Linked DNA regions of Homo sapiens: all the other regions are linked to region 3. The links come from fine-mapping of genetic effects on gene expression. A gene starts in region 3. Each other region holds a variant in brackets. All regions are shown on one strand. Distances are between the middles of the regions.

Evidence for each region. PIP is the estimated chance that this variant, and not a neighbour inherited with it, causes the effect.
Region 1: its variant is fine-mapped to the expression of UQCC1 in whole blood (INTERVAL, PIP 0.96).
Region 2: its variant is fine-mapped to the expression of UQCC1 in whole blood (TOPMed, PIP 0.99).

What each region holds. Positions count from the first base shown.
Region 1 is chr20:35,529,233-35,537,900 of GRCh38, forward strand. C20orf173 (chromosome 20 open reading frame 173) reads right to left here and starts at 420. Exons shown (of 6, transcript NM_001145350.2): 1 at 327-420; 2 at 1-192. The coding sequence starts at 141. The variant CA/C (reference allele first, on the strand shown) is at 4,581.
Region 2 is chr20:35,371,118-35,379,785 of GRCh38, forward strand. UQCC1 (ubiquinol-cytochrome c reductase complex assembly factor 1) reads right to left here. Exons shown (of 10, transcript NM_018244.5): 5 at 3,067-3,139. Among named protein-coding and RNA genes, the nearest start is that of UQCC1, 37 kb to the right of the region's middle. The variant C/T (reference allele first, on the strand shown) is at 4,298.
Region 3 is chr20:35,409,049-35,416,933 of GRCh38, forward strand. It overlaps UQCC1 (ubiquinol-cytochrome c reductase complex assembly factor 1), which reads right to left and starts at 2,925. Exons shown (of 10, transcript NM_018244.5): 1 at 2,892-2,925. The coding sequence starts at 2,915. RefSeq lists enhancers at 2,257-3,080, 2,671-2,770, 2,831-2,980, 3,081-3,903, 3,111-3,160.

The DNA of each region.
Region 1 (8,668 bases), 120 kb after region 3:
AGGGCAGTCGCAATGCTGTGGTACCAAGTACATTCGTTTTTCCTGGGGTGCTGATTCAGGTGTCAGATCCAGATAGGGGGTCATCAGCCAGAGGATGAGCACCCAAAAGACCCACAGGACAAAAATCTGCCAGCGCTTCATGTCTGGCCCAGGCGGTGGCTCCCGTGGTGGGCCGTAGACTGGCTTCTCTACCTGTAAGGATGAGGGGCTGAGGCCACAGACAGCACCAGCTTCCCTCTGTCCTGTCGGCCTCCACAACTCCCCATCCCACCACCTTCCACCTCCTTCCAACCCCTCCTCTCCTGCCTCACTATCCATTTGCTCACCCTCAAAACGGTCTCTGACTGGGCATGGGGTGGAAGAGGCCAGGGCAGAGAGACAGCATGTGGCTAGTCCTGAGAGGGGAAGGAATACCTCAGTGGGGGCCTTGCTGTCATCCCAGTTATATCATAGATCTCATCACAAAGTACACATTGTGACCTCCCTCCTTTAGCCTGCCTGAAAAAAGCCACCACCCTACCCTTTCTCTGACACCGAAATGACCTCCACTGGATGTAAGATTCATGAGGACAGGGGCTGACCTAGTCTCTCTTCTTCACCTCTGCAGCTCTAAGACTTAGAATCATTTAATAAATATTTATGGGATAAATAAACAGGGGTTGAGAGGGAACTTTTTTTTTTTTTTTTGAGATGGAGTTTTTGCTCTGTTGTCCAGGCTGGAGTGCAGTGGCATGATCTTGGCTCACTGCAACTTCCGCCTGCCTGGTTCAAGCGATTCTCATGCCTCAGCCTCCCAAGTAGCTGGGACTACAGGCATGCGCCACCACGCCTGGCTAATTTTTATATTTTTAGTGGAGACAGGGTTTCGCCATATTGGCCAGGCTGGTCTCAAACTCCTGACCTCAAGTGATCCGCCCACCTCAGCCTCCCAAAGTGCTGGAATTACAGGCGTGAACCACCATGCCCAGCCGGGAACTTTATTTTTAAATTATTATTATTATTATTATTATTATTATTATTATTATTATTATTTTGAGACGGAGTTTCACTCTTGTCGCCCCAGCTGGAGTGCAGAGGCACGATCTCGGCTCACTGCACCCTCTACCTCCCGGGTTTAAGTGATTCTCTTGCCTCGGTTTCCCAAGTAGCTGGGATTACAGGTGCCCGCCACCACGCCTGGCTAATTTTTTTGTATTTTTAGTAGAGACGGGGTTTCCCCATGTTGGTCAGACTGATCTCGAACTTCTGACCTCAGGTGATCCGCCCGCCTTGGCCTCCCAAAGTGTTGGGATTACAGGCATGAGCCACTGCACCCCGCCCCAGCCTGGAACTTTAAATATACTTGTGTGTGATGCCCTCTCTGGAGTTGTGTGACATCAACTCAATCCTCTCTTGTAGTCTCTAGACCCCATATCCAACAGCCTACTGAATTGCCACTTAGATGGCTCAGAGACATCTCACCTGAATAAGCCTGAGACTGAACCCAGGATTTTCCCTGTAAACCAACCCTTCCCAAAACTTCTCTGTCTCTTTTGTTTTGTTTGAGACAGAGTCTTGCTCTGTCACCCAGGCTGGAGTGCAGTGGCGCAATCTCAGCTCACTGCAACTTCTGCCTCCTCCGGGGTTCAAGCAATTCTCCTGCCTCTGCCTCCCGAATAGCTGGGATTACAGGTGCGTGCCACCAAGCCCGGCTAATTTTTTGTATTTTTGGTACAAACGGGATTCCACCATGTTGGCCAGGCTGATCTCAAACTCCTGACCTCAGGTAATCTGCCCACCTCGGCCTCCCAAAGTACTGGGATTACAGGCGTGAGCCACTGCACCCAGCTTCAAAACTTCTCTATCTCAACAAATGGTTCCACCACGTACCCAGTTATTGAAACCAGAACTCATGTGTTATTAATTCCTCCTACTCCTATGATACCCAAATTCTTTTTTTTTTTTTTTTTTTAGGACAAAGTCTCACTCTGTCACCCAGGCAGGAGTGCAGTGGCACAATCTTAGCCCACTGTAGCCTCTGCCTCCAAGGTTCAAGCAATCCTTTCACCTCAGCTTGCCAAGATGCTGGGACTACAGAAGTGTGCCACCACGCTAGGCTTATTTATTTATTTAATTTATTTTTGAAACAGAGTCTCACTCTGTCGCCCAGGCTGGAGTGCAGTGGCACAATCTTGGCTCACTGCAACCTCTACCTCCCAGGTTCAAGTGATTCTCATGCCTTAGCCTCCCAGGTAGCTGGGACTACAGGCGCACAACACCACACCTGGCTCATTTTTGTATTTTTTTGGTAGAAACGGGGTTTCACTGTGTTGGCTAGGCTGGTCTCCATCTCCTGGTCTCAAGCAATCCGCCCACCTCGGCCTCCCAAAGTGCTGGAATTACAGGCGTGAGCCACCGAGCCTTGCTGATTTTTTTTTTTAAGTAGAGATGGGGTTTACTGTGCCAGCCCTGTCTCGAACTCAGCTCAAGTGATCCACCCTCCTCGGCCTTTCAAAGTGCTGAGATTACAGGCATAAGCCACTGAGTCTGGCCTCAAATCCATTTTTTAATTCGTTTCTATTTCTAAGTCATCTTCTTCATCTCCACTGCCACCCCCTTAATTCAATTGTAGTCTTGTAAAGATAGTAAAAAAATGAAAATGTTTGAGTTGTTTTTAAAGTTTAAGAAAAAAACAGAACATTTTGGTTTTTAAAAAAAATCAAAACATTTTATTCAATGGGATAAGAACAGTAAAATTCTTCATCTTAACTAGTGGAAAGCTGCACTGGATATTGTATAGCTTTTAAATCAATTCACCCAAATATCTGAGTAAGGTGTGTAGGCTAGTTAATTATATCATACCAACGTCAAGTTCCAGGTTTTGAAAAAGTACCATATGGGCTGGGCGCGGTGGCCCACGCCTGTAATCCCAGCATTTTGGGAGGCAAGGTGGGCAGATCACCTGAGGTCAGGAGTTCGAGACCAGCCTGACCAACATGGAGAAACCCTGTCTCTATTAAAAATACAAAATTAGCCAAGCATGGTGGCGCATGCCTGTAATTCCAGCTACTCGGGAGGCTGAGGCAGGAAAATTGCTTGAACCCGGGAGGCGGAGGTTGCGGTGAGCCGAGATCGCACCACTGAATGTGATTTTAGCTGGGCAAAAAGAGTGAAACTCTGTCTCAAAAAAAGAAAAAGAAAAATTACTATATGTATTATATGGTAAGACACTACCATTAAGAGAAAATGAAGGCCAGGCACAGTGGCTCGTGCCTGTAATCCCAGCACTTTGGGAGGCCAAGGTGGGGTTTGAAGCTTGAAGCCAGGAGTTTGAGACCAGCCTGGGCAACACAGCAAGACTCTACACACACACACACACACACACACACACACACACACACACACACACAAAATTAGCTGGGCTTGGTGGTGTGCGCCTTTATTCCTAGCTACTTGGGAGGTTCAGGTGGGAGGATCACTTGAGTCCAGGAGTTAAAGGCTGCAGTGAGTTATGATAGCAGCACTGCACTCCAGCCTGCGTGACAGAGCAAGACTCTGTCTCTAAAAAAAAAAAATAAAGCAAAAATAAAGAATAAAATGGGAAAATGGATGATGGGTACATGGGAATTTTCTGTACTATTTTTACAATTTCTTGTGTGCCTATGGTTTTTTCAAAATGAAAAGGTTTTAAAAATTATCTACCAGCCTGGGCAACGTAGGGAGACCCTATCTCTATAAAAAATATAAAAATTGGCCATTGTGGTCCCAGCTACTCAGGAGGAGACTGAGGTAGGGAATACTTGAGCCCAGGAAGTCAAGGCTTCGGTGATATGTGATTGCACCACTGCACTCCAGCCTGAGTGACAGAGTGAGACCTTGTCTCAAAGAAAAAAAATCATTTAGGAAAAGATGTATAGCAAGTTTTATTGCTATTTCATTTACATCAACTGCTACAATTTTTTTTTCTTTTTTGAGATGGAGCCTTGCTCTTTTGCCAGGCTAGAGTGCAGTGGCATGATCTCAGCTCACTGCAACCTCTGCTTCCCGGGTTCAAGAGATGCTCCTGCCTCAGCCTCCCGAGTAGCTGGGACTACAGGTCCGAGCCAGCACGCGCAGCTAATTTTTGTATTTTTAGTAGAGACAGGGTTTCACCATGTTGACCAGGATGATCTCAATCTCTTGACCTTGTCATCTGCCTGCCTTGGCCTCCCAAAGTGCTGGGATTACAGGTATGAGCCACTGTGCCTGGCCAACTGGTATAATTTTTAAAATTTTTGTAAACTCATAAAATTTACCATTTTAACCATTTTAAAAATATTTTGGCCGGGTGTGGTGGCTTATGCCTGTAATCCTAGCACTTTGGGAGGCTGAGGCAGGCGGATTGCCTGAGCTCAGGAGTTCAAGACCAGCTTGGGCAATATGGTGAAACCCTGTCTCTACTAAAATACAAAAATTAGCCAGGCGTGGCGGTGTGTGCCTGTAATCCCAGCTACTTGGGAGGCTGAGGCAGGAGAATTGCTTGAACCCAGGAGGCAGAGGTTGCAGTGACCTGAGATCGCACCACTGTACTCCAGCCTAGGCAATGGAATGAGACTCTGTCT[CA/C]AAAAAAAAAAAAAAAAAATATATATATATATATGTGTGTGTGTGTGTGTGTGTGTGTGTGTGTGTGTATATATATATATTTTTATTTTATATAATATATATAAAATTTTATTTTAAGTTCCAGGATACAGGCCAGGAGCAGTGGCTCACGCCTGTAATCACAACACTTTGGGAGGCCAAGACAGGGGAGGGGGATCACAAGGTCAAGGGATTGAGACCATCCTGGCCAACATGGTGAAACCCCATCTCTACTAAAAATACAAAAATTAGTTGGGCATAGTGGCGCGTGCCTGTAATCCCAGCTACTCAGGAGGCTGAGGCAGGAGAATCGCTTGAACCCAGGAGGCGGAAGTTGCAGTGAGCTGAAATCGAGGCACTGCACTCCAGCCTGGTGACAGACTCCATCTCAGAAAAAAAAAAAAAAAAAGAAAGTTCCGAGATACATGTGCAGGTTTGTTACGTAGGTAAATGTGTGCCATGGTGGTTTGCTGCACCTATCAACCCATCACGTAGGCATTAAGCCCTGCCTGCATTAGCTATCCTGATGCGCTCCCTCCCACTGGCCTGCCCACCAGGCAGGCCCCAGTGTGTGTTGTTCCCCTCCCTGTGTCCATGTGTTCTCATTGCATTTTATCCATTTTTTTAATGTGCAACCATCATCACTATCTAGTCTCAGAACACATTCATCATTCCAAGCATACTCTAGTGAATAATACATTGAATAAGACTAGAATCAATTACATGACATTCATATCCCCACTACCCATTTTTTCCAGATCTTAGCATTTCTTTGCTTTTGCTGTTCTGGTGTTTAGGTATGAATATATGTTCATTTATCCTGTTACAGTACATTCAGGCTTCCTAAATATGAGAACTCTTGCCTTTCATCAATTCTGGGTAATTCTCAGCCATTTCTTTCAAATATTGCCTCTCCCTTATTCTCAGTATTTCCTCCTATTAGGAAACTCCTATTAGGCAAATGTTGGATTGTTTTTCTTTCTATCCTTCAAGTATCTGAATCTCTCTTTTACATCTATGATTTTATTTCTCTATATTACATTATGGGTAATGTTTTTCAGCTCCATCTTTCTGTTCAATATTTCTCTCTCTCTCTCTCTTTTTTTTTTTTTTTTGAGACGGAGTTCTCACTCTGTTGCCCAGGCTGGAGTACAGTGGCCCCATCTCAGCTCACTGCAACCACCTTCCAGGTTCAAGCAGTTCTCCTGCCTTAGCCTACCAAGTAGCTGGTATTACAGACGTTCATCACCATGCCTGGCTAATTTTTGTATTTTTAGTAGAGATGGGGTTTCACCATGTTGGCCAGGCTGGTCTCAAACTCCTGACTTCAGGTGATCCACCTGCCTTGGCTTCCCAAAGTGCTGGGATTACAGGTGTGAGCCACTGCACCCGGCCAATATTTCTCTCTTTAACTGTGCCTAATTGGTTGTTTAGCCCTTCTACTGGTTTTTAAACTTAAATGACTATTTTTCATTTCTAGAAATTCTTTGAAATGTACTTTCACTTTTTTTTTTTTTTTCTATGGAGTCTCGCTCTGTCGCCGAGGCTGATGTGCAGTGGTGCAATCTCGGCTCACTGCAACCTCCACCTCCCAGGTTCAAGCGATTCTCCTGCCTCAGCCTCCTGAGTAGCTGGGATTACAGGCGTGCGCCTGCCATCTTGGGAAAGTCAGTTCACCTCTTGGCTTCCTCATCTATAAAATGAGACTTGAAGTAGCACCTAGGCTGCGCATGCGCTGGCTCATGCCTGTAATACCAGCACTTTTGGAGGCTGAGGCAGGTGGATTGCCTGAGGCCAGGAGTTAGAAACCAGCCTGGCCAACGTGGCAAAACCCCATCTCTACAAAAAATACAAAAATTAGCTGGGCATGGTGGTGTGCACCTGTAATCCCAGCTACTCAGGAGGCTGAGGCATGAGAATTGCTTGAACCTGGGAGGCAGACGTTGCAGTGAGCCAAGATCACGCCACTGCACTCTAGCTTGAGTGACAGAGCGAAACTCTGTCTCAAAAAAAAAAAAAAAGCACCTAACTCCCACGTTGTTTTGAGGGTGAAATGGATTACAGCAATGGGCATATTGTCCATGTTCAGTTAGTATTAGTTTCTCCTTGTCTTTGCTCCTTCCTTGGTGAGCTGCGGTCAGGCTGCCACAGTCACCCAACTCCAGGGTCCCTCCTCTTCCTTTTTATGGAAGCATTCCCTAACCCAGCATGTTAGTCACCTTCCCTTACAGACTCCCATGGTCCCCCTGTGCCACCTCTTATCAAAGTTTTGATCTTAAGTCATTGAATGATTTGAGCTATGCACTTTGAAATAAAACAGACTGGAGTTTAGATATTAGCTTATTAGCCACTCAAAGCTTTTAATCAGGGATAATAATAGCAGTTAGCATCTAAGGTTGTTGTTTTTGTTGTTGTTTTGTTTTTAGAGACAGGGTCTTGCTATATTGCCCAGGCTGGTCTCAAACTCCTGGGCTTAAGTGATCCTCCCTCTCCTGCCTCAGTCTCCCAAGTAGCTGGAACTATAGGTGTGTACCACTGTGCCCGGCCTAAGGTTGTTGTGAAGATGAACTGACATGATATAGGTGAAGATAAAAGAGTTTACAACAGGGCAGGTGCGGTGGCTCATGGCTGTAATCCCAGCACTTTGGGAGGCCAAAGCGGGCAGATCATTTGAGGTCAGAGTTCGAGACCAACCTGGCCAACATGGTGAAACCCCATTTCTACCAAAAATATAAAAAATTAGCCAGGTGTGGTGGTGGACGCCTGTAATCCCACTACTCGGGAGGCTGAGGCATGAGAATCGCTTGAACTGGGAGGTGGAGGTTGCAGTGAACTGAGATTGCACAACTGCACTCCAGCCTGGGTAACAGAATGAGAATCTGTCTCAAAAAAAAAAAAAGAGTTTACCACCATATTTGCCACATAGTAGTGGCTTGACAAATGCTAGGTATTTTTTTTTTTTGAGATGGAGTCTCCCTCTGTCACCCAGGCTGGAGTGCAGTGATGCGATCTTGGCTCACTGCAACCTCTGCCTGCCGGGTTCAAGCCATTCTCCTGCCTCAGCCTCCCAAGTAGCTGGGACTACAAGTGCACGCCACCATGCCTGGCTAATTTTTTGTATTTTTAGTATAGACAAGGTTTCACTATGCTGGTCAGGCTGGTCTCAAACTCCTGACCTTGTGATCCTCCCACTTCTGACACCCAAAGTGCTGGAATTACAGGTGTGAGCCACTGCACCCGGCCAATGCTAGCTATTTTAAAAAATTATTATTATTAGCTATTATTTTTATTTTTATTATTTTATTAAGGGATATATTAATATCCATAATTAGGACTGTAACTTTCTTTCTTTCTTTTTTTTTTTTTGATTCGGAGTCTCGCTCTGTTGCCCAGGCTGGAGTGCAATGGCACAATCTTCGGCTCACTGCAACCTCTGCCTCCCGGGTTCGAGCAATTCTCCTGCCTCAGCCTCCTGAGTAGCTGGGATTACAGGCGCCCACCACCATGCCCAGCTAATTTTTGTATTTTTAGTAGAGACGGGGTTTCACCATATTGGCCAGGCTGGTCTTCTGGCCTGGCTGGTCTCAAACTTCTGACCTGGTGATCCACCCTCCTCGGCCTCCCAAAGTGCTGGGATTACAGGCGTGAGCTACCGTGCCCAGCCAGGACTGTAACATTCTTGAAGGCAAGAACTGTTCTAATTCAACTCTCTCTTCCCAGGACTCAACACAGGGCAGGGACACAGTGTGTGTGTGTGTATATTTGAGTGTTGCTTGCATACATGGATATTACATTTTAAAATCTGAATTTAGTGCAATTTTTAATTTTTATTTTTTAATAATTTTTATTTTATTTTATTTATTTTATTTAATTTTCAGACAAAGTTTCACTCTTGTCCTCCAGGCTGGAGTGCAATGGCATGATCTTGGCTCACTGCAACCTCCACCTCCTGGGTTCAAGCGATTCTCCTGTCTTAGCCTCCCAAGTAGCTAGGATTACAGGCATGCGCCACCACGCCCGGCTAATTTTTTGTATTTTTAGTAGAGATGGGGTTTCACCATGTTGGCCA
Region 2 (8,668 bases), 38 kb before region 3:
GTTTACACCAGGCTATGAATTGAAACATGATATGTTAAATACGTAAAAAGTCTTATTATTCAATACTACAATATTAACTGAAGAACCTTCAATAATGAACAGCTGGCCAAGACAAAGTTATCTAGTAAACATCCTTTCAAAATAATTCTAAGAAATTTCTGAGTTATTTATTGAATCAAATATAAAATAGACATTAAATAGACATCTGAGGATGAGGGTTTTTTTTGTTTTTTTTTTTGAGATGGAGTCTTGCTCTGTCGCCCAGGCTGGAGTGCAGTGGTGTGATCTCGACTCACTGCAACCTCTGCCTCCCGGGTTCAAGTGATTCTCCTGCCTTGGCCTCCCGAGTAGCTGGGATTAGAGGCACCCACCACCATGCCCAGCTAATTTTTAGTAGAGGGTGGGGGTTTCACCATGTTGGCCTGGCTGGTCTCAAACTCCTGACCTCAAGTGATTCACCCACTTCAGACTCCCAAAGTGCTGGGATTACAGGCGTGAGCCACCGCGCCCAGCCTGAGGATGAGGTTTTAAAAAGACCTGATGAAAAATACTTCACACATGGATTCAAGAAGGCACTTAAAGAAAAAAAAAAAAAAAAAAAAAACAGGCTGGGCATGGTGGCTTATGCCTGTAATCCCTGCACTTCAGGAAGCTGAGGCAGGATCACTTAAGGCCTAAGACCAGGAGTTCAAGACCAGCCTGGGCAACATAGTGAGACCCTGTCTCTACAAAAAATAAAAATAAAAAAATGACCCAGGCATAATGGCATGTCTTTGTAGTCCCAGCGACTCAGGAGGCTGAGGTGGGAGGGTTGCTTGAGCCCAGGAGTAAAAGGATGCAGTAAAAGGGCTAGAGCCACTGATTCCAGCCTAGGTGACAGAGCAAGATCATCTCTTAAAAAAAAGAAAAAGAGGCCGGGTGTGGTGGCTCACGCCTGTAATCCCAGCACTTTGGGAGGTCGAGGTGGGTGGATCACAAGGTCAGGAGTTCGAGACCAGCCTGGCCAATATGGTGAAACCTCGTCTCTACTAAAAGTACAAAAAAATTAGCCGGGCATGGTAGCACATGCCTGTAATCCCAGCTACTTGGGAGGCTGAGGCAGAATTGCTTGAATCCGGGAGGCAGAGGTTGCAGTGAGCCGAGATCACACCACTGCAGTCCAGCCTGGGTGACAGATTGAGATTCTGTCTCAAAAAAAAAAAAAGAAAAAGAAAAAAAGCAGTTTCTAATATTAATAGCTTCATCAGATAGAGAAAAAATATTTTTTCCTTTTGGACTAACTTATCCTAGACTAACAAAGAAGCAGGAAAATATTCTTTCCAGGTTATGAATAAAGAAGAAAGGAAAGGTGAACACTAAATTGGAATTATAATTCAGTATGGTATTTCAGTTTTTGGTGTCAATCTGCTGAGACAGTAAAATAAAATGATTTGTATTTATTTGATTTTTAAAAACCAAAATAGGCCAGGTCCCATGGCTCACGCCTGTAATCCGGAACTTTGGGTTGGGAGACTAAGGCAGGTGGATCATGTGAGGCCAAGAGTTTGAGACCAGCCTGGCCAACATAGCCAAACCCTGTCTCTACTAAAAAAAATACAAAACTTAGCTGGGCATGGTGGCGTGCACCTGTAGTCCCAGCTACTCAGGAGGCTGAGGAACAAGAATCACTTGAAACTGGGAGGTGGAGGTAGCAGTGAGCCAAGATGGCACCACTCCACTCCAATCTGGGCAATAGAGCAAGACTCAAAGCAAGTCTCAAAAAACACGATGCAACAAAAAAATAGTTATTAAATAACCAAAACTGCACCCAGCTTTCTTCATTGTTGTGAACACAATTATATACAAATATTTGCTGCTAGAGAAAAATCTCAAATGTATACAGTTAGGTGTATGCTGCTTTGAGGATGTGACTATTACCACAGAAGTACACAGCATACATTTCCTTCCAAAACCTGTGGAACTGGAAATGATTTAATCTCTCCCAATTACAAGTACCTGCTTTAATTAACTTTGTTAATAATATAACTGTTTACAGCATCAAAATTAATACTGTGATAACAATCAACTGCTTCTGACAGTCTAAACCAGCAAAACCCTTTTGGAAAGCAATTTATCAATGAGATATACATAATAAAATTATATATGCCTTTTGACCCAATAGTCTTTTAACATGAGAAAAATCATAATTAATCCAGGATTAATTAAAACAATTAAAAATTAAAAACAGGAATAGCTGGCCAAACGTCCATGTCAAAATGCTAAGTAAAACATCCAGAATGGGCCAGGCACAGTGGCTCACGCCTGTAATCCCAGCATTTTGGGAGGCCAAGGAGGGCGGATCACGTGAGGTCAGGAGTTTGAGACCAGCCTAGCCAACATGGTGAAACCCCATGTCAACTAAAAATACAAAAATTAGCTGGGTATGGTGGCACATGCCTGTAATCCCAGCTATTCGGGAGGCCGAGGCAGGAAAATTGCTTGAACCTGGGAGGTGGAGAGGTGGAGGTTACACTGAGCCAAGATCGTACCACTGCACTCCGGCCTGGGCTAATAGAGCAAGACTCCATCTCAAAAAAAAAAAAAAAAAAAACCATCCAGACTGTAAAACAGAATATGTTTACTATGATATGAATACTCTTATGTAAAAAGATGCATGTGTGGACAAGGGAGATAATGTCAAAGTACAGTTTGTTTGTTTTTTCAAAATAAGCAAAATGTTTTATTTATAGGATCCTTTTGCTCTCTGTTTACTCTATTAAAAAAGAAAAGCAGCTGGGTACAGTGCCATGTGCTTTTAGTCCCAGCTACTATTCAGGAGGCTGAGGTGGTAGGACTGCTTGAGCCCAGGAGTTTTAGGCCAGCCCGGGCAACACAGCAAGACCCTTGTCTCTAAAGAAATATATACAAGAAGTTTTTTAAAGAGACAAATAGACAGTTTGGATTATATGCTTTGTGCAGGAAAAACTGTTTCACTAGGGACTAAAAAAACCTATCCTATTAAAACACAACCATAAAAATGAAATGTAGATTTGTTCTCCTTTTCAGTACTATCAAACAATAACTTACTTAGAAAGAATTCCTCGAAGTCAGTTTTCTCCACACAGCTAGTATACATGCGCAGGGCCGCAATCTTAATCTTCTAGACAAAGAGAATAAAACCAAACTCAAGACATGACCAAGTGGATGTTCTACTTCCATTAGACATGGGTCACAAAATCTTATATTTCTTCAACTAGAAGGAAGGGTCCAAACCACTCTCTAGGTAATTTAAACCAATATAAATTTTTTTTGTTTTCTTAGAGCTTAGCCATTCATACAGACTTCACACAATTTTCATATTTTAGGACTTTAGCATGAAAACCTCAGAAAGGCTTTTCCAATATTTAAATGAAATCTCTCATTTAATTCCAACCTACTTCACCACATTTGTGCCTCTAAATCACTGTTCAGCATTATCCACATTAACTCTTTAGAATCTGAAATCCTTTATAGTAAAAAAGTACACATTCTTCTGGCCAAAATCAAAGAAATATACAAAAACCCTCAAGCCTTTAATCTTTCCTCAGAGGCACTACTATCTATTCTATAAATCTCGGGGGATGGAGTAAGCGGTATCTTTTTTCCAGATCTTTAATTTTATAGTTTGCTGATTAACACTGTGTCTGTAAATAAGGGTTTCTAATGACTGTAAAATACAATATAAGAATCAAACTTTTACTATTCCCAAAGCACTAGGAATTCTCTTAGGCTTTTGATATGAGTGGTGGTTTTAATTTTTTCACTGAGCTGTATACTTAAGATTTTTATATTACACTGTATATAAATTATGCCTTAATAAAAATAAATCTAAAAATAAATTATTTAAGAGTTGACTTATGGGTCTGAAGACCAACTCAGCACTCTAGGAACAGGTATTTTAAGGACTTTCAAAACATTTCATTAAGGATATAACTAAATAAATGAGCACTTCAACAAGGCTTCTAGAAGCTTATTTTTTCTTATAACAACAGGGAAAGTTATAAACTCAAATATGCATAGACCAAAAACAAATGTGTACAGGCTGAGAATGACATAGCAACTGAAGAAAAACCAATCTAGAATTTAGTGGAGCTATGATACTAAGGTTTAAAGTCACCAAGAACATACTATACCCAAAACTATATAATGTTCATGTTTTTCTAAATTCTCTAGAGTTAAAGCAAGTGTCTCTGATGGGTAGAAATACCCATAGCAAATTAAAGAATGATTACGTCTCTGATTGTAATTAAGATATTTTATTTGCTAACTTGAGATCTGT[C/T]ATGTTTTTAAGAGCTTCCAGTCTAAAGTTAATACAGGGGAAAATAGGACATATAGAAATAGACAAATAAAAATCAGATATCCCTATCTGGGGAGTAAATCAGCATTAGAAGCCCACGTTTAAACAAAACCCATGGTGAAATGCTAGAAAAGCAAAGCAAATTAAACCTAAAAGCAAGCAGAAAGAATGATATAGTAAAGATCAGAAATCAACAAAACTGAAACAGGAAGATAAAATACAGAAAATTCAAGCCAGGCCAGGCATGGTGGCTCACGCCTGTAATCCCAGCACTTTAGGAGGCTGAGACAGGCAGATCGGCTGAGCCCAGGAGTTGGAGACCAACCTGGGAAACATGGCAAAACGTTTCCATCTCTACCAAAAATACAAAAATTAGCTGGCCATGGTGGTGTGTGCCTATAGTACCAGCTACTCAGGAGGCTGAGGTAGGAGGCTGAGCCTGGAAGGCGGAGGTTGCAGCAAGCTGAGATCACGCCACTGCACTCCAGCCTGGGTGACAGAGCTGGACCTTGCCTAAAAAAAAAAAAAAAAAAAAAAGGAAAATTGAAGCCAAAGCCGTTTCTTTAAAAATATCAATAAAATTAGGTTGGGTTGTGGTGGCTCACCCACCCGGCTCACTAATCCCAGCACTTTGAGAGGCCAAGGCAGGAAGATCAACTGAGGTCAGGATTTCGAGACCAGCCTGGCCAACATGGTGAAACCCCGACTCTACTAAAAATACAAAAATTAGCCAGGCATGGTGGCAGGCGCCTGTAATCCCAGTTACTTGGGAGGCTGAGACAGGAGAATCACTTGAACCTGGGAGGGAGAGGATGCAGTGAGCCGAGATTGTGCCACTGCACTCCAGCCTGGGCGACAGAGCCAGACTCCGCCTCAAAAAAAAAATCAATAAAATTGATAACCTATAAAACTGATCAAGGAAAAAGAAAAGCCCAAAACACATAAGATACAAATTTTCAGTATCAGGAATCAGAGAGCAGACATCACTGCATATCCTAAAGACATTAAAAGGATAATAAGGGAATCCTATGAACAACTTTACTCCAATGAATGTGATTACTTAGATGAAATGGACAAATTCCTTGAAAGATACAAACTATTAAAGCTCACTAAAATAAATAACATGAACAGTCTTGTATCTATTAAAGAAATTGGATTTGTCTTTAAAAACCTCCCCACAATGCAAACTGCAGACCCAGATAGCATCACTAGAGAACTGTACTGAACATCTAAAGAAATGTTATGAAATCAGCCAGGCGCGGTGGCTCACACCTGTAATCCCAGCACTTTGAGAGACTGAGGTGGGCGGATCACGAGGTCAAGAGATTGAGACCATCCTGGCCAACATGGTGAAACTCCATCTCTACTAAATATACAAAAATTAGCTGGGTGTGGTGGTACGCGCCTGTAGTCCCAGGCTGAGGCAGAAGAATCGCTTGAACCCAGGAGGCAGAGGTTGCAGTGAGCTGAGTGCGCCACTGCACTCCAGCCTGGCGACAGAGTGAGACTCCATCTCAAAACAAAACAAAACAAAACAAAAAAAAAAAGAAAAAGAAAAGGAAAAAAGGAAATGTTACGAAATCTACACAAACTCTGCCAGAAAACAAGAAGAAAGGATATTTCCCAGCTCATTCAATAAGGCCAACCTTATCCTGATATCAAAATCAAAGTCATTAGGAGAAAACAAAACTACAGAACAATAGCCTTCATGAACATAGATCATTGATGCAAAATTCCTTAAGAAAATATTTTAAAATTAAATCCATCAATATTTTTAAAAGGATAGTATATCATAATCAAGTGAAATTTATCCCAGGAATGCAAAGATAATTCAACACTGACAAATCAATCAGTTTCACCATATCAACAGACCAAAAAAAGCCTGTTTAATTTTGTTAACACTTGCAGTTCTAGGAAGTATCTGACCACAGAACACATCTTGGGAAGCACTGGTCTGTGCCATTACCAAACTAATGATAATCTAATAATATCATGATCCTAATAATTTGGCCTTGACAGGCCTACTCCTATCCTTAAGACAGGGAGTTCAGGACATCTGCCCTAGCTCCTCACTTCATCCAATAATTCACTGAGTACATAACTCAGTGCCTGGCACTGATCTGGATGATGAGAATAGAGCAGTGGGCAAAACAGACAAAAATCTCTACTCTCATGGAGCTTACGGCCCAGTTCAGCTACAGACAAGTATGTAACTTTAACTAAAATTTCTAATCATCTATTTCTTGATTTTTTTAAATCTTGTAATCTCCTTCAGATTCCTATATATAAAGTCCTGGGTTCATAATTAATCACCTTGCCTGGAGACTTGCCTTCAAGGCCCAAGGCCCAAGTCTTTCCTTGAGAAGGAAGCTTCCCCAACAACACGTTTGTGAAAAAGCATTCATCACAAACAATGAAGACTTCACCAGATTGGCCAGAGTATGTTTTCAGTGCTCATGCTATGGCAATCAGGAGCATTTTATAGTTCTTCACTTTTCCTGCTGCAAGGCCAAGCCTTTATACTTGGGTGAGCCATTTTCCTGGACAAATCTCTAAAACAAGTCTCTAAAGACTATCACACAGAGACTGGAAATAATAACTTGAGGAAAGAACCTCATCAAGAATCATGCACTGATCTGAGTTAAGGACGTAGGGGGACTGAATTTTCAACCAGTCAATACAAGTTGTTCTGGTCCTTGGATGACTTCATATTTATTTCATTTTAATTTTAGAAGACTTCATCAGTCATCTTTTACTTGAGTAAAAGAGAGGCACCTTGAACAGCTTTAGGAAATGAAAATCTGCTCTCCCACGAACTAATGCATTTTTTAACATCCTACAGGATGAAAAACAAATCTAGTAAAATGCTTGCATTAACAGCTATGTAAGAGTTTGAAAGGGCCTGGCAAGGTGGCTCATGCCTGTAATCCCAGCACTTTGAGAGGCCGAGGTGGGCGGATCATGAGGTCAGGAGTTCTGAGACCAGCCTGGCCAAGAGACCAGGGTGGCCAGTATGATGAAACCTCATCTCTACTAAAAATACAAAAATTAGCTGGGCGTGGTGGCAGGCACCTGTAATCCCAGCTACTCGGGAGGCTGAGGCAGGAGAATTGCTTGAACTTGGGAGGCAGAGGTTGCAGTGAGCCGAGATCGCGCCACTGCACTCCAGCCTGGGCGACAGAGCGAGACTCCAACTCAAAAAAAGATAAAAAAGAGTTAGAAGGGTGTTTTAAGTAATTTGAACCTTCTATTGTCTACTGGAAATCCTTCTACAGCATTCTTGATTCACAGTCAACCATCTGGGCCTCTGTTCAAACAAGACCAATGACCTTGTAAGGCTACCTGTCCCACCTGAGGACAATTCTTGTTAGATTCTTATTTTGCTAAACTTAAAATCTGCTTCATATAACATTCATTGAACATTATTCTGCCCACTGGAATACCTTCTTTTTTTCACATTTGCCCCTCAAATACCTGAGAAGAATCATCCTGTCTTCTCTTTTCCAGGCTAAGCATCCCTATTTCCTTCAACCGTTCTTAACAGTTTCTGAAATGTTCATAAGGCTCACTGCCTACCTCTGAATACATTCCAGTTTGTCAGTGTCCTTCAGAATAGGAATAACTTTTTGGCTTAATGCTAATATGGAAACCTATTCTATGGCATGTGGCTGAGTTGGGTAAATATTGTGCTTATCTCACCTGATACTGCATATAAAGGTAATTTTTTAAAATGATGATTCCAAGATACTCAAATAGGTAAGGGAAAGCTACATTTAAGATCCTAAACATGATTATCAAACATGGGAATAACACATGAAACCTAAAGAAAAAGATAGAGAAAAGATAGCTGATACTGCTGATGTGGACAGACATGCAGGTATTTTACTCCCTAATCAAATACATGTGAAAACACAAAACAAATAATTTTGCCAGTGCAATCCAATACAAGTGCATTGATTTGAGTCAACATTGCTGAAAACGGTTCTGTTTTTCAAAATGAAAAGTTACACATACATTTTCACATCTCAATTACACTAGAATGTCATACGTTGATATTGTGATGTAACAAATTTTAAAATGAAGGTTATAGGCTGGGCGCAGTGGCTCAATCCTATAATCCCAGCACTTTGGGAGGCCAAGGCAGGCGGAATCACTTGAGGTCAGGAGTTGGAGACCAGGCTGGCCCAACATGGTGAAACCCCATCTCTACTAAAAATACAAAAGTCAGCCAGGTGTGGTGGCATGCGCCTGTAGTCCCAGCTACTTAGGAGGCTGAGGCAGGAAAATTGCTTGAACCTGGGAGGCGGAGGTTACAGTAGGCTGAGATCACGCTACTGTACTCCAGCCTGGGTG
Region 3 (7,885 bases):
TATAGAGAGTTATTAATAGGTTCAGAGTTTCAGTTTTATAAAATGAAAATAATTCTGTGGATAAGGGTGGTAAAGATGGCACAACAATGTAAATGCACTCAATACCACAGAACTGTACACTTAAAAAGTTTCAAAGGTGGCCAAGCACAGTGGCTCATGCCTGTAATCCCAGCACTTTGGGAGGCCAAGGCGGGCAGATCACCTGAGGTCAGGAATTCAAGATCAGCCTGGCTAAAATGGTGAAACCCCATTTCTACTAAAAATACAAAAAATTAGCTGAACGTAGTGGCACGTGCCTGTAATCCCAGCTACTCAGGAGGCTGAGGCAGGAGAATCGCTTGAACCCGGGAGGCAGAGGTTGCAGTGAGCCAAGATCACGCCATTGCACTCCAGCTTGCGCAACAAGAGCAAAACTCCGTCTCAGAAAAAAAAAAAAAAGTTTAAAAGGTAAATTTTGTTACATGTATTTTACCACAACTTTTTTTTAATTTTCTAAAGTACAGGGTGGCTTTCTGCAATTTTTACTATTTCCAAAGAAAAGCAGAAATGATCAGCAATGCCCAGGACAACTCATAAAAACCATAAGCATGTCCAGTTCCACTGATCAAATGTCCAGGCTCTCTGCTGTAGTCATTCAACAATAGCAGTGTTTTAGTTTCCTCCTCCTTCCCAAAACCATCACTGGAGAAGGGAAAATATTGGCTGACAAGACAAAAAGAGGAAAAAATAAAGCAAGACTAACAAGAATGTTTCAGGAATACTTCTTTTTTTTTTTCAGACAGAGTTTCACTCTTTCACCCAGGCTGGACTGCAGTGGCACAATCTCAGCTCACTGCAACCTCCGCCTCCTGGGTTGAAGCAATTCTCGTGTCTCAGCCTCACGAGTAGCTGGGATTACAGGCGCCCACCACCAGGCCTGGCTAATTTTTGTATTTTTAGTAGAGACAGGGTTTCACCACGTTGGCCAGGCTGGTCTTGAACTCCTGGCCTCAAGTGATCCACCTACCTCAGCCTCCCAATGTGCTGGGATTACAGGTGTGAGCCACGGCACCTGGCCAGGAATACCTCTCTGTGGTTCAGTTTTCTTATCTGTAAAATAGAGGAAATAACACGCCCTCCTTTCCAAAGGGATGTTATAAGGATTAGGTAAGTATTTTAAAGTGCTTAGCACGTAGTAAGTGCCCTATAAAATGATAGTTGTCAGGCCAGGCTCGGTGGCTCATGCCTGTTATCCCAGCACTTTGGGAGGCCGCAGGAGGCGGATCATGAGGTCAGGAGTTCGAGACCAGTCTGGCCAACATGGTGAAACTCCATCTCTACTAAAAATACAAAAGTTAGCCAGGTGTGGTGGCAGGCGCCTGTAATCCCAGCTACTTGGGAGGCTGAAGCAGGAGAACTGCTTGAACCCAGGAGGCAGAGGTTGCAGTGAGCCGAGATCACACCGCTGAACTCCACCCTGGGTGACAGAGCGAGACTCCATCTCAAAAAAAAAAAAAATACAAAAATTAGTCAGGTGTGGTGTGGTGCATGCCTGTCATCCCAGCTACTCGGGAGGCTGGCACAGGAGAATTGCTTGAACCCGGGAGCAGAAGTTGCAGTGAGCCCGAGATGGCACCACTGCACTCCAGCTTCGGCGACAGAGCAAGACTCTGCCTCAAAAAAAAAAAAAAAAAAAACAAAACCCTAAAGGGTGGCAGGGGAAGGATTAAAAAAAAAAAAAAAAAAAAAACCACTAAATTCAGAACATTCTAATTGCCATTTCCCCAGCAGTCCTCATTTCTGAATCAATTTCTGGCCTGAAATCAAACAATCACTTCACCAGGTGAATCTTTCTGGCAGTTACAGGGGCTACTCTACAAATAAATATTTACTGAACAGCAGTCGAGGGTACCTCACTCTGCTAGGCTGGCAAGGAATACAAGAAGTAAAACTGTCGTCCTTGTAAGACATATATAAAAAGATCAAAAACACAAATGTAAAATAACAATTCAGAAGTTACCTAGACACAGGAATAGACCATGTCTACTATGAAAAACAGTGTCTTTGACCCAGTTTTTGAAGACTCGCTAAAACTATACACTCTCCCATCCCTCCATGATTAAAAACTAAGCTCTGTATCCTAACGTTTTTTCTGCTGCCACTTTCTTTTCTCCTTTAATTGCTAGAGAAAAGAGTATGCTAGAAGGGTCAGGACTAAATCTCAAGAGGTGCAGTAGTTTCACACACGGGTGCTAAAGAGTCTGGTAGTCTTTCCTTACTTCATTCATTTATTCAACAAGTAATCATTTAACACCTATGATGTGCCAGACACCATGCTAGGCAAAGTGAAAACGACGGAGACAGACATGACTCCAATTCTCACGCAGCTTTCAATCTAATAATCTATATTCCACTTAACTGTACAGTTAAGAACTGACTTATTACCTATGAAAGAAACCCTGAGAATCTCAGAATCTAAAGGGACTGCAGGAGATAAATGTCCTCGTTTTTCACATAGGGTCAATGAGGCCCAAAAGTGACTTGCTTAAAGTCACTATGCATCAGTGACAGTCAGGGACTAGAACCCAGGCCTCCTGAAACTCCAATCAGTGTCCTACATGCTCCTCTCCCTGAGGGGAAGCAGGTACATGGGGGAGGGAAGGAAAAGTAAACCCCATCAAATAAAGGCCAGATGTCAGTCTTCCCCTTCTCGAAAGATGGGGGAGCTAAGGTCAAAACGGGGTAGGAAGAGGTCGGAAGCTGCCTCAGTTTCCCCACGGAAAAGCGGCCACTCAGCCTAGCTATAACACAGGCTTCCCTCCTGCGATTCCTTCCAATTCCTCCCGCCCTGCCTTGTCGAACTCCAACCCGGGACCCAGAGAGCTACCGTAGAAAATTACTCCTTCACTCACAAGGACTCGCACCAGCAACGCCATGTTCCTCAATAACCATTTCCGGGTGAAGAGTGAGTTTCCGGTGTCCCCTTTTCTACGTCCTCCTTTTGCCGGCGAAAGACTGGCAAGGGGGGCGCAGGCGCAAAGAGGTCGCTACGCGCACGCGCTGTTGTTTTCTCGGCTGTGCACCAGGCTGTCGTGCCCGGGCACGCTCTCCCTGCTGTCTCCCCCACTACACGTAACAGTGGTTCAAATCCTTCCCCCACGCCTGTCTCCTTGACCCCAGACCTCGGGGCTTCTCATATCCCTCTCTTTATTCCCCACCTAACCCAGCCTCACTCCTCAGCCCCTCCTTCCCAAACTCCACCCCAACACTTTTCAATGGAGGTTGAAAAGAACAGGACTTTAGGAAATCCCAATCTTTAGAAAGAGCCAGAAGACCGGGCGCGGTGGCTCACGCCTGTAATCCCAGCACTTTGGGAGGCCGAGGCGGGCGGATCACCTGAGATCAGGAGTTCGAGACTAGCCTGGCCAACATGGCAAAACCCCGTCCCTAACTAAAAATACAAAGAAAGTAGCCGGGCATGTTGGTGTGTGCCTGTAATCCCAGCTACTCTGAAGGCAGAGGTTGCAGTGAGCCGAGATCGCGCCACTGCACTCCAGCCTGGGCGACAGAGCAGGACTGGACTCTGTCTCAAAAAAAAAAAAAAAAAAAAAAAAAAAAAAGCCAGAGAAGGAGGCTAAGATAAAAGAATACGGGGGATACCAGACTCCTGAAAGTCAAGGCAAGAAGGCGGTCATGTGCCGATCTGAAGCCTGGTAGAGGAAGAAACTTTTGGGATTTGTGGTTGGTTGGTTGTTTAAGGGAAACATCTTTGCATATTGATAGGAAAAGATTAGTGAAGAGTATACAGGGCCGTGCCCGGTGGCTCATGCCTGTAATCCCAACACTTTGGGAGGCCGAGGCAGGTGGATTGCCTGAGGTCAGGAGTTCAAGACCAGCCTGACCAATATGGTGAAACCCCGTCTCTACTGAAAATACGAAAAAAATTAGCCGGGCATGGTGGCGTGTGCCTGTAATCCCAGCTACTTGGGAGGCTGAGGCAGGGAATCGCTTGAACCCGGGAGGCAGAGGTTGCAGTGAGCTGAGACTGGGGCACTGAACTCCAGCCTGGGTGACAAAGCGAGACTCCGTCTCAAAAAAAAAAAAAAAAAAAGAGTATACAGGAGAATCAATCAAAGAGGCAAGGAGCTTCTTGAGGAAAGTGGCAGAGAACGGCCTTGGTAGAAGACTCCTCTTCCATTACATCCCAAGAGAAGAGAAGACAAAGTACTGGTGCTTTGGGGGTTGAGGGAGCAGAGGGGCAGGATGTTGAAGGACTTCTTTCATTTCATTCAGTCAACAAAGACCTATTGAGTCTTCCCTATGTGCTGAACACAAGACATACTGGCTTCATGGAGTTCTTAGACTGGTGGGGGAGGCATAGGAACCCAGTGAAAAAAATTAAAACTGGGGAGCTACTTTGGTTAGGTTGGTAAGGCCTCTCCAAGAAAGTGACATGTAAGATGAAATCTAAAGGAAGAAGAGGAGCTAGTCATGGGAAATAACTTCACTCGACTATTTTTTTAATTAAATTTATTGATTTTTATTAATTGACAAAAAATATATATTGTGTACAACAGGATGTTTTCTTTTTTCTTTTTTTTTTTTTTTTTGAGACAGAGTTTCACTCTTGTCGCCCAGGCTGGAGTGCAGTGGCTCAATCTCGGCTCACTGCAACCTCCACCTCCCAAGTCAAGCGATTCTCCTGCCTCAGACTCCCAAGTAGCTGGGATTACAGATGCGCACCACCACGCCTGGCTAATTTTTGTGTTTTCAGTAGAGACGGGGTTTTGCCATTTCGGCTAGGACGGTCTCAAACTCCTAACCTCAGGTGATCCACCCACATCGGCCTCCGAAAGTGCTGGGATTACAAGAGTGAGCCACCGTGCCCCCGGCCAGGATGTTTTAAAATATGTATACATTGTGAAATGGCTAAGTCAAGCTAATTAATATATGCATTACCTCATATTTTTGTGCTGGAAATGTTTAAAATATGTTCTTTAAGCAATTTTCAAGAATACAATACATATTCATAGTGGGTATAGTCACCATGTTATACAATAGATCTTTTCTTTTTTTTTTTGAGACGGAGTTTCACTCTTGTTGCCCAGGCTGGAGCGCAATGGCGTGATCTTGGCTCACTGCAACCTCTGCCTCCCGGGTTCAAGTGATTCTCCTGCCTCAGCCTCCTGAGTAGCTGGGATTACAGGCATGCGCCACCACGCCCAGCTAATATTATATTTTAGTAGAGACGGGGTTTCTCCATGTTGGTCAGGCTGGTCTCGAACTCCCGACCTCAGGTGATCCGCCTGCCTTGGCCTCCCAAAGTGGCCTCCTGAACTTATCTCTCTTAACTGAAATTTTGTATCCTTTGACAAACATCTCCTCAGCCTCTAGTAACCACCATTCTACTCTCTACTTCTGTGTGTTCAACTTATATTCCACATATGAGAGAAATCAAGCAGTGTTTGTCTTTCTGTGCCTCATTTATTTCTCTTAACATAACATCCTCCCAGTTCATCCATGTTGTCATAGATATGAGCATTTCCTTCTTTTTTTTTTCCTTGAGACAGAGTCTTGCTCTTGTTGCCCAGGCTGGAGTGCAGTGGCACAATCTTGGCTCACTGCAACCTCTCCCTCCCGGGTTCAAGCAATTCTCCTGCCTCAGCCTCCCAAGTAGCCTGGACTACAGGCATGTGCCACCACACCCAGCTAATTTTTATTTTTAGTAGAGATGGGGTTTCTCCATGTTGGTCAGGCTGGTCTTGAGCTCCCGACCTCAGGTGATCTGCCCACCTTGGCTTCCCAAAGTGTTGGGATTACAGGTGTGAGCCACCGCACCTGGCCAGCATTTCCTTCTTCTTTTAGGCTGAATAGCATTCCATTATATATATAAATCACTTTTTTTTTTTTTTGAGACAGAGTCTTGCTCTGCCGCCCAGGGTGGAGTGCAGTGACACAATCCCAGCTCACTGCAGCCTGTACCTCCTGGGTTCAAGCAATTCTTGTGCCTCAGTCTCCCAAGTAGCTGGGACTACAGGCACGTGCCACCATGTCCGGCTAATTTTTGTATTTTTAGTAGAGACAGGGTTTCACCATGCTGGCCAGGCTGGTCTCGAACTCCTGGCCTCAAGTCATCTGCCCACCTCTGCCTCCCAAAGTACTGGGATTACAGGCATGAGTCACTGTACCTGGTCATAAACCACATTTTCTTTCTTTCTTTCTTTCTTTTTTCTTTTTTTTTTTTTTTTTTTTTGAGACGGAGTCTCACTCTGCCACCAGGCTAGAGTGCAGTGATGCAATCTCAGCTCACTGCAACCTCCCCCTCCCAGGTTCAAGCGATTCTCCTGCCTCAGCCTCCTGAGTAGCAGGGATTACAGGCGTGCACCACTACACCCAGCTAATTTTTGTATTTTTAGTAGAGACGGGTTTCACCATGTTGGTCAGGATGGTCTCGGTCTCCTGACCTCATGATCTGCCCACCTCGGCCTCCCAAAGTGCTGGAATTACAGGCGTGAACAACCACGCCCAGCCACCACATTTTCTTTATTTGTTCATCACTAATGGACACTTAGGTTAATTCCATACTTGGCTGTTGTGAATACCACTGCAATGAACATGTTAGTATAGATGCCTCTTCAACATACTGATTTCATCTCCTTTGAATATATATCCAATAGTGAGACTGCTGTATCCTATGGTGGTTCTGTTTTTAATTGTTTGAGGAACCTCCATACTGTTTTCTATAATGGGTGTACTAATTTACATTCCACCAACAGTGTGCAAGGGTTCCCTTTCTCCACGTCCTTAGGAACAATGTTATAGTAGCCATTCGAACAGGTGCAAGGTAATATCTCATTGTGGCTTTAGATTGCATTTCCCTGATGATTAATGATGCTGAGCATTTTTTCATATACTTGTTGGCCATTTGTATGTCTTCTTTTGAGAAATGTCTATTCAGATCTTTTGCCCATTTTAAAATTTGGGTATTAACCCCTCATCAGATATATGGTTTTTAAATGTTTTCTCCCATTCCATACGTTGTCTCTTCACTCCGTTGATTGTTTCCTTTGCTGTGCAAAAGTTTCTTAGTTTCATATAACACTATTTCTCTATTTTCACTCTTTTTGCCTGTACTTTTGGGGTCATATTAAAAAAATTATTGCCCAGACCCAGGTCATGCAGCTTTTCCTCTATATTTTCTTCTTCTAGTAATTTTAGTTTGAGGTCTTGTGTTTAAGGCTTAAATCTATTTGGAATTGATTTTTATTTGAGACAGGGTCTTGCTCTGTCACCCAGGCTGGAGTGCAGTGGTGCAATCAAGGCTCACTGTAGCCTCAAAGTCCTGGGCTTAAGTGATCCTCCCTCCTCAGCCTCTTGAATAGCTGGGTCCGTAGGCATGTGCCACCATGCCTAGCTAATTTTTTTATTTTTAGTAGAGATGGGGTACGGGGGTCTCTCTATGTTTCCCAGGCTGGTCTCAATCTTCTGGGCTTGAGCAATCCTCTCATCTCAGCCTCTCAAAGTGCTAGGATTAAAGGTGTGAGCCATAACACCCGACCTTCGATTTTTGTATATGGTATGAGGTGAGAGTCTAATTTCATTCTGCATGTGGATATCTAGTTGTCCCTACACCATTTATTAAAAAGACTGCCCTTTACCCATTGTGTGTTCTTTGCACCGTTGTTGAAAATCAATTGACTGTAAATGCATAGGTTTATTTTGGGTCTCTATTCTGTTCTATTGGTCTATGTGTCTGTACAAATGCTATTCTATCAGCAAATGTTGGGAAGTGGGAGAGGGACAGAAGATTTCAGAACAAGAGTCTTGAGGTGGGGAAAAAAAACAGTACATTTTAAGGCCGGGTGCAGTGGTTCATGCCTGTAATCCCAACACTTTTGGGAGGCCG